2 linked regions of the Homo sapiens genome follow. The protein of the gene in region 1 purifies or fractionates together with the protein of each later gene. This does not show direct contact. Each region holds a gene or a part of one and is shown on either strand. Other genes may lie near its edges.

Region 1 (3,199 bases):
TTCACCATGGGAGGGCACCAAGCCATTCTTTAGGGATCTGTCCTCATGGCCCCAAAAGCTCCCACTAGACCCCACCTGCAATAGTGGAGGACACATTTCAACATGAGATTTGGCAGTGACAAAATATCTAAATCATAGCACCCGTGTAGGATTCAAGAAACTAAGAAGTTGGGTTCCAGCACTATAGCCACTTTTAAGCCTAAAATCCAATGTGGATCTCAAGTTGTGGAGGAAAATCAGAAAATAAAAATAAGGGATGAAGTTTCTGTACCACATTTGGAATCACACTAAAAGCGATCATGTATGGCCCGCACCCATATGGTGTGCACAATGCAATACCGTTTTACAGAAGGGTGAACTCAGTGAGTAACCTGGCTGGCCTGAAGGTGTTCACATTGTTAGTGACTCACATTTTCATCCAGAGACTGGTCTCTAAACTCCCAGTTTAACCCCCACCCAGTCCATTTTTTCCAAGGCACACAAAGAAGAACAGAGTAAGATTCAAGTCAAAATTGTTTTATTGTCACTCACATATTTAATATAAAAAGAAATGCAGCAAATGGCTCAGTATCGTATTGAAAAAAAATCCAGGTTGTGCAGCTTGTTCTATTAACATCTGGGAGAAGAGCTGTTCCCACATCAGGCACAGCAGCTGCAGTTCTCCAACGTCCCTTTGCAGACACAGCCGTGGGCACACTTGGCACAGCCCACGGGGCAGCAGGAGCAGCAGCCTGGGGAAGAAGGGGAGAGAGAGGTAGCAGTAGACTTGACCGGGCACCGCCCTGCCCCAATAGCAAGCCTGGCTGGAGCTCAGAACCCAGACCCAGAGGAAGCTTTTTACGTCTGGCACAGCTCTGTTCTGAAACCATAGATGCTACAGTTGGGATTTGTGTCCCAAGAGAAAAATGCTGTCCTGCCCCATCTGAATTTAGGGCAGAAAGCCTGGAGAGGGAATGACACGGGCAATGAGGGCAAAGAAAGCCCAGTTCCCCAGAAGGATGCACTCAGGGCCAGCCTTGGGTTCCCTCCCAATCTCAGCCACAGCCCCAGATTCCTGGAGATGGCCCCGCACTCACTCTTCTTGCAGGAGGTGCATTTGCACTCTTTGCACGTGCAGGAGCCGGTGCAGGCGCAGGAGACACCTGCAAGGAAGAGAAAAACGCAGTGGGCAGTGAGTGAGATGAAGAAGGTACAGCAATGGGTCAATGAGTCTCCAGTGCCCCCTCCTTTGTGCAGGGCCAGCCCTCAGAGCTCCTTTCCCACTCAGGGAAAGCCCCTGTCCTCTCCACTAACGCTGGGAAGGGCAAGCACCCTCCTGTTTTACCCTACCAGGAAGGTCCCAGGGGCACACCCAACCCAGGAATACTGAGATTGCCAGCCAGAACCTTCTGTGCTGAACCCTGAAGACTCAAATGTCTCCAGCCCCCAGTCCACCCTGATTGCTCAGAGCCTGGAGGAGAACACTGGGGCCCAGCCAGCAGGACCCTAACCAACTGGGTGATGTGGAGCGGGACTGCCTTGACCCTCAGTATCCTTAACTCTGACCCAGAGGCCCAGGAGGGAGGGCAGTGCTCTCAGAGGGGAGATCAGGAAGAAAGCACCTAAGGAAGTAAAGGAATTCCCTTCCGCTCAGAACTTAAATGCGACCTCCTCAAACCCAGAGACCCTCAGTACTGGGGCTGGGAAATGGGATTCCTAGGGCGCAGGGTCGGCTTCTCTTACCAGTGGTGCAGGAGCAGTTGGGGTCCATTTCGAGCCGCGGTAAGGCTGGAGATCTCAAGCGATAAATGGAGCGACTGCTAGGCCCACCCGGACGGCGTGGTGGAGCGCCACAGCCTGCGGCTGCTTTTCTACTCAGGGGAGGGGGCCGGGCGCAGAGGCCCTGCCCCGCGCTTGCACCCGCCCGGCTGGGTTCGCACCGCCAGCGGTCCTGGGCTGGGCTGGGCTGAGCCCAGCATAAGTGCCGGGCGCACCATCCCCTGAGCTCCGCTCCGAGTGCGCCGCTCGACCGCCCCTTTGGCTCGGGTTTGCGCGGGAGGGGCTGTGCGCCGGGTGGTACGCAGTGTCCCCGAGGTCCCGGCCGCCTTTCCCAGTTTCCCCGAAGTTGCCTTTGCCTTCCACCCTCCTCCCCGCGCTTTCCGGGACCCCAGCCTTGGCGTCGCGGGCGTCTCCACCCCACCCCCTCGCCCCGCCGTTTTCAACTGGGCCTGTCCCGGAGTCCCGGTGCAGCCCTCCTGCTCCAGTCCCCGGATCGGTCGTGTGCGGAGCGGGGGGCGTGTGGTAGGGAGCGAGTCGTGTGCAGAGCACCCGCCACCAATGTGGCTTTCGTTTCTCCTCCTTCCCCGCCTTGCCTGTCCCTGTCCACACCGCGGTCCCTCGGACTGGCTCCTCCGTACACAGCAACACGGGGAACACTGGTCGGCCTCTCTCTCCCGTCCATTCTCTTCGCCTGAGAGGATGTGGGGGAACATTTGTCCAGGTCCTCCTTTGCAGATAAATCTCCATGCTCCCCACAGCCTAGCCGGCCACCCCACTACCGTCTGGCAGTTCTGGACCTGTGGGATGTCCCCAAAGAGAGATGACTTCAGATGATATGCAGACTCTGCTTTAAATTAAAAAGCAAGATGGGTGAGGTCGCGGGAAGCTGTAGTCCCAGCTACTTAGGAGGCTGAGGCGGGAGGATCACCTGAGCCCAGGAGTTCGAGTTCTGCCTAGTCCACATAGCAAGTCAGCATCTCTAAAATAATAAAATTAAAAAACAAGACATGCAGTTGTTTCTCTTCAGTATACCTGACTATTGCATGACATTGAGTCTACACCAGTCCCTTTTTAATCTCTTTCATTCTTTGAATCCTCACAGCAATCCTAAAGGGAAATACTAGTTATGAACCCGTTTTGCTCATCACAGGACTACAAAGGAAATGTCCAAGTAACTGGCTGGTCGTCACAGAGCTAAAAATTTGTGCCCTTGTTTAAGTCCAGCCAGCCTCTTAAAGGAAAGTGTCCATGATCAAGCCTTCCTTTGGTCCAGATATGTCGTCAGCACTTCTCTATTGCTGGAAATCTTCTAAACAACAGGGGAAGGGCACCGCGGCCCACACCTGTAATCCCAGCACTTACGAAGGCCGAGGCGGATGAATCACCTGAGGTCAGGAGTTGGAGACCAGCCTGGCTAACATGGCGAAACCCTGTCTCCACT
Region 2 (4,643 bases), on another chromosome or scaffold:
TTAGCAATGAGAAGCTATAGTATATCTTGAGCCACAGAATATTCTTGAGCAGGAGTAATAAAAAATACTGTTTTGTGAAAATTAATCTGATGGGGAGGAGGTAATAGAGATGGATTATGGGTGGGTGGGAGTGAAGAATTAGATTTAGAAAAGAGATCATTTAGAAACCAGAGTAGTCATCCAACTATGAGATGATAAGAACTTGAATAAGGGTGGAAGCAATAGGAATGGAAAGAAAGGCATAGATTTGTAAGACAAAGAAAAAAAATAGAAAGTGGTGGCATTATTAGATGGGAAAAGGAGGAAAGTCACCAGTCTCGTTGCTCTGTTTTAGGATCCGTGAGGTTCATCTATCTGTAGTGCTTCTGGCCAGAGAAAAGGCCGAAGAGAGAAAACCCTGAGGAACATCTTTGACCTGCATAGAAACTTATCTGAAGATTTTCAGAATCTGAGCCTCACCCTCAGTCTATCCCAGTTTTATCCTGACCTGTCCACATCTGTTATACTCCAAGGCTTGCTGGGCCCAACACTGGAAGCTATTTAATGTTTCTATTGCGACTGGCCTTTTAAAGCCAGTGGGATTCTCCATGCTACACTTGAGCCTGGAGACTAGAAAACATGACAGCCTGTTTTCATTAATCCGTTTTCATTAACTGCTGTGGTCTGAATGTTTATGTTGTCCACAGATTCATATATTAAAATCCTAACTCCCGGCTGGACGCAGTGGGTCACACCTGTAATCCCAGCACTTTGGGAGGCTGAGGCAGGTGGATCACTTGAGGTCAGGAGTTCGAAACCAGCCTGGCCAACATGGCAAAACCCCGTCTCTACTAAAAATGCAAAAATTAGCCAGGCATAGTGGCTGGGCTAATCCCAGCTACTGGGGAGGCTGAGGCATGAGAGTCGCTTGAATCCTGGGACTGGAGGTTGCAGTGCCCCAGGATCATGCCACTGCATTTCAGCCTGGGCAACAGACAGCGAGACTCCATCTCAAAATAAATACGCAAATAAATAAAATAAAATCCTAACTCCCAAAGTCATGGTATTAGGAGATGGGGCATTTTGGGGGGTGATTAAGTTTTATGAGGGCAGAGCCTTTCTGAATGGGATTCATACCCTTATAAATAGGCCCAAGGGAACTCATTCACCCCTTCTACCATGTGAGGACACAGCAAGAAGGTGCCATCTATGGACCGGAAAGCAGCCCTCACCAAACACTGAATCTGCCAGCACCTTGATCTTAGACTTCTCAGCCTTCAGAGCTCTGAGAAATAAATGTCTGTTGTTTATAAGCCACCCAGTTTGATATTTTGTTCTAGCAGCCCAAACAGACTACAACACCTTCCCTGGGCTCGCCTCAGCTTCTGTTGTGGGGCAGAGCATAAGGCAATTTGACTAGGACCCAGAGGATGGGTAAGCTTGGCTGAAATGATGGAAATGTGATCATCTGAAAAGGTCAGAAAGTTGGCAGTTTGCTCAATTCGGCATGCAAGGTAGGGAGACCAAAAGCCCCCTCCTTTGAAGGCAATGGCTGTAGCTGGGGCCAGAAGTGATGTCACATAACCACTGCTGAGGTCATAGAATCTTCCCTCTCCTCCCTCTGTCTCCTCATTGCCACAGCCAACCGGCTCCCACATATCTGCACACACTTAAATACAAAGGCCGGGAAGGGTCAGACCACCATCCGGGTACTCTAAGGTACATAAAAGAGGTAGGGGAAAGAGAGGATCATTCAGTAGGTAGGATCCACACTGGTATCTCCAATGCTGGGAATGGGAGACTCATGCTGTAGTTGCGTAGGTGCAATGGGAGCTGGGAGGGAGAAAGGAGAGAGCAACAGGGAAGAGGGGAGCTGTTCCTGTTGCTGACTGATTTTACCATAACACTCATCCTCATTACTCCACAGTCCTCCCTCCCCCTTCTCCTTCACCCCCAAGTGTCTCCCACGACTGCCCTCCCCGACCTCTAGCTGACCATGGCATCAGAGGCAGAAAAAACATTCCATCGGTTTGCTGCGTTTGGAGAATCATCAAGCAGTGGCACTGAAATGAACAACAAGAACTTCTCCAAGCTGTGCAAAGACTGTGGCATCATGGATGGCAAGACAGTCACCTCCACGGACGTGGACATCGTGTTCAGCAAAGTCAAGTGAGGAGCCAAAAATATGGAGGTGGGGGTGAGAAGAACCTGCGAGGTAGTTGGCCACGGAAGGGTTCACGTGGTGGAACATTTGCAGTGGGCCTACCAAGCACCACAGGGTACCTGGCGCTGTGCTATCCTTTGTCTTCGAGACACTCACTGATTGATAGGACAAAAGAGGCCAAATCTGAGTGAGGCAAGAGTTGGACCTTGGAAGGTAATGCATTCATGCTCCAAAGTTTCTGGATTTCTGTCTAACTGACCAGGGCCAAGAACGCCCGAACCATCACGTTTCAACAGTTCAAAGAGGCAGTGAAGGAACTGGGCCAGAAGCGCTTCAAAGGGAAGAGTCCAGATGAAGTCCTGGAGAACATTTATGGACTCATGGAGGGCAAAGACCCAGCCACCACTGGCGCTACTGTGAGTGACAGCCTTCATCCCCTTGACCCTACTTCCCTAAATCCCCATTGTTCCAGTCTACCCTCCCTAACCCTGCCAACTGTGTGACTGTAGAGACAGGGCCGAAACAGACTTTAGAGATCATCTAGACATTCCAGAAGTCAGGAAAATGTGGCCCAGAGAAGGGAAGTGACTTGCCCAAGGTCCATGGCTATTTTAATAGTAGATTTAGACTAATTTCCAAGTGTCTAGTATCTGAGCCAGGCAATTAGGGCTTGGTAGCTTTTGGAGGACATTAGTGTAGAGAATTTGGTACCTGATGCCCACTCCTCTTCCAATTCTTATTTAGGGTTTAATCTCAGGCCTCCTGCCTCTCACCTACTCCCTTTTTTAATTGTCCTGTCTGAACTAAAAGCTCTTTCTACAGTGGATATTGAGTCGGGGAGTGGGAGTGAAGTCCTCAGGCAGCAGCCTAGTCAGAATAACTCCTCTGGAAACAAAAAACCTACCCTCCCTCTGCACACGCCACACTCATTCCCACACCACACTCCTCCTCCCCCATGAGTGAACGGCTCTTACCAGAGTACCTGCCCACAGCTGTATCTGGGCCCTAAGAAAGCAGCACCCCATGCCAGTGGCAGAGCAAGAGCTCCAAGCACTTGTTCTAAGTATCTCGGGCCATCTTTGGGGAAGGGATATGACAGCGTAAGGAAAGGAAGAGAGCTCAAATCCATCCCTGGCTTGCAGAAAGCAACAACAGTGGGTGCAGTGGACCGTTTGACAGACACCAGCAAGTACACCGGCACCCACAAGGAGCGCTTTGATGAGAGTGGCAAGGGCAAGGGCATTGCGGGACGGGAAGAGATGACTGACAACACAGGCTATGTGAGTGGTTACAAGGGTTCTGGCACCTACGATAAGAAGACCAAGTAGAGAGGAGCTTCATCTCAGCCTGCTAGCCCCCTGACCCTGCATGTTTAACACCAGGGAGCTTGGAAAACAATAAACATCTGTGTGTGCAGCAGCCAAAATCTCTGTCTGTGAGGGACAGATGAGCCTACTAGTGTAGAGAGAGGGAGAAGAGGCAGCACAGGAGGGTGGGTTCTCCACCACACACCCTTCGCTCTGCTTAGCCTTATGCCTACCAGCCATCAGTTAGCATTCCTCCTCAACAGCTGCTTCCAAGAACAGGATGGAAGAATATATTTGGAGTAAAGAGATGAACCAGATGTGGAGGTAAAAGTATCTACTACTTGTGTTCACACATTACTGATATCCACCTCTCCACCCCCACCCCTCAAAAGGGTGTAGCAATTCCTCACGTGATGGACTATGACTATATCACATATTAGATCCTTCCCTGTCCCTCCACCTTCCTCATCTGTTGCAATTCAGGTTTTTTGGGTGGAGGAGTAGAAGCCAGCTAAGGTTGCCTGACTTCTATTACAAATTTGTTCCAGAGCTGGGGTAAGGGGAGAGTCTATTTTCAACACCCAGCCCAGAACTAAGTTTTACCCCACATCACCTCCATCATGGGGCACATGGGACAGAAGAGCTTACTGACTGCTAAGGGTAGCTCAGGAAGATGGCCAGATGAGGCAGGCTGCCAGGATTCCAAGAGCAGGAGTTCTGGTGCACTGAAGAAAAAGCAATTAAATCACAACAGAGTCAGATGTGTGTTATTAACTTTTTATTTTGAATTGATTATGGGTTGACAGGAAGTTACAAAAAATGGTACAGAGGGGGCTCGTGTGCCCTTCACCCAGTTTCCCCCAATGGTTACATCTTACATACTCAGATGTGGTTTTAGAAATTTATGTTCGATTAGAGCCGGGCCTGCCTCATTCGCTGCCTGGTCAGGGGCAGACTCTGGAGTCTGGGGGATTTGGGAGGAGCTTCTGGAAGAGAAGGGAAGCAGGAACCTCTGGGGAATGGGTGAGAGAAGATACCTTGAAATGCCAGTGAGCCAAGGTAAGAAGACTGGAAGAAAAAGAGGTTGGAAAAAGGAAGGCAGGGTGACTACGGTTGTTGGGAGTGTGGGGGAGACAGTCCTAGGCTCCATGGTAAGAGGAAGCAGGAGAGGACAGTTATATGAAGGGAGAAAC

The links.
Region 2: the proteins of MT1M (region 1) and TPPP2 purify together in Homo sapiens (affinity purification with mass spectrometry; one large-scale study listed by BioGRID and IntAct). This does not show direct contact.

Annotation. Positions count from the first base shown.
Region 1 is NC_000016.10:56,631,283-56,634,481, reverse strand, and holds MT1M (metallothionein-1M), read right to left. Parts: upstream 1,824-3,199; 5' UTR 1,751-1,823; coding exon 1,723-1,750; intron 1,143-1,722; coding exon 1,077-1,142; intron 732-1,076; coding exon 640-731; 3' UTR 501-639; downstream 1-500. UniProt on the Homo sapiens protein: Metallothioneins have a high content of cysteine residues that bind various heavy metals; these proteins are transcriptionally regulated by both heavy metals and glucocorticoids.
Region 2 is NC_000014.9:21,028,607-21,033,249, forward strand, and holds TPPP2 (tubulin polymerization-promoting protein family member 2), read left to right. Parts: upstream 1-1,610; 5' UTR 1,611-1,698; intron 1,699-1,906; 5' UTR 1,907-1,975; coding exon 1,976-2,148; intron 2,149-2,405; coding exon 2,406-2,559; intron 2,560-3,285; coding exon 3,286-3,471; 3' UTR 3,472-3,713; coding exon of another isoform or gene 3,714-3,761; 3' UTR 3,762-4,209; downstream 4,210-4,643. UniProt on the Homo sapiens protein: Probable regulator of microtubule dynamics required for sperm motility. In contrast to other members of the family, has no microtubule bundling activity.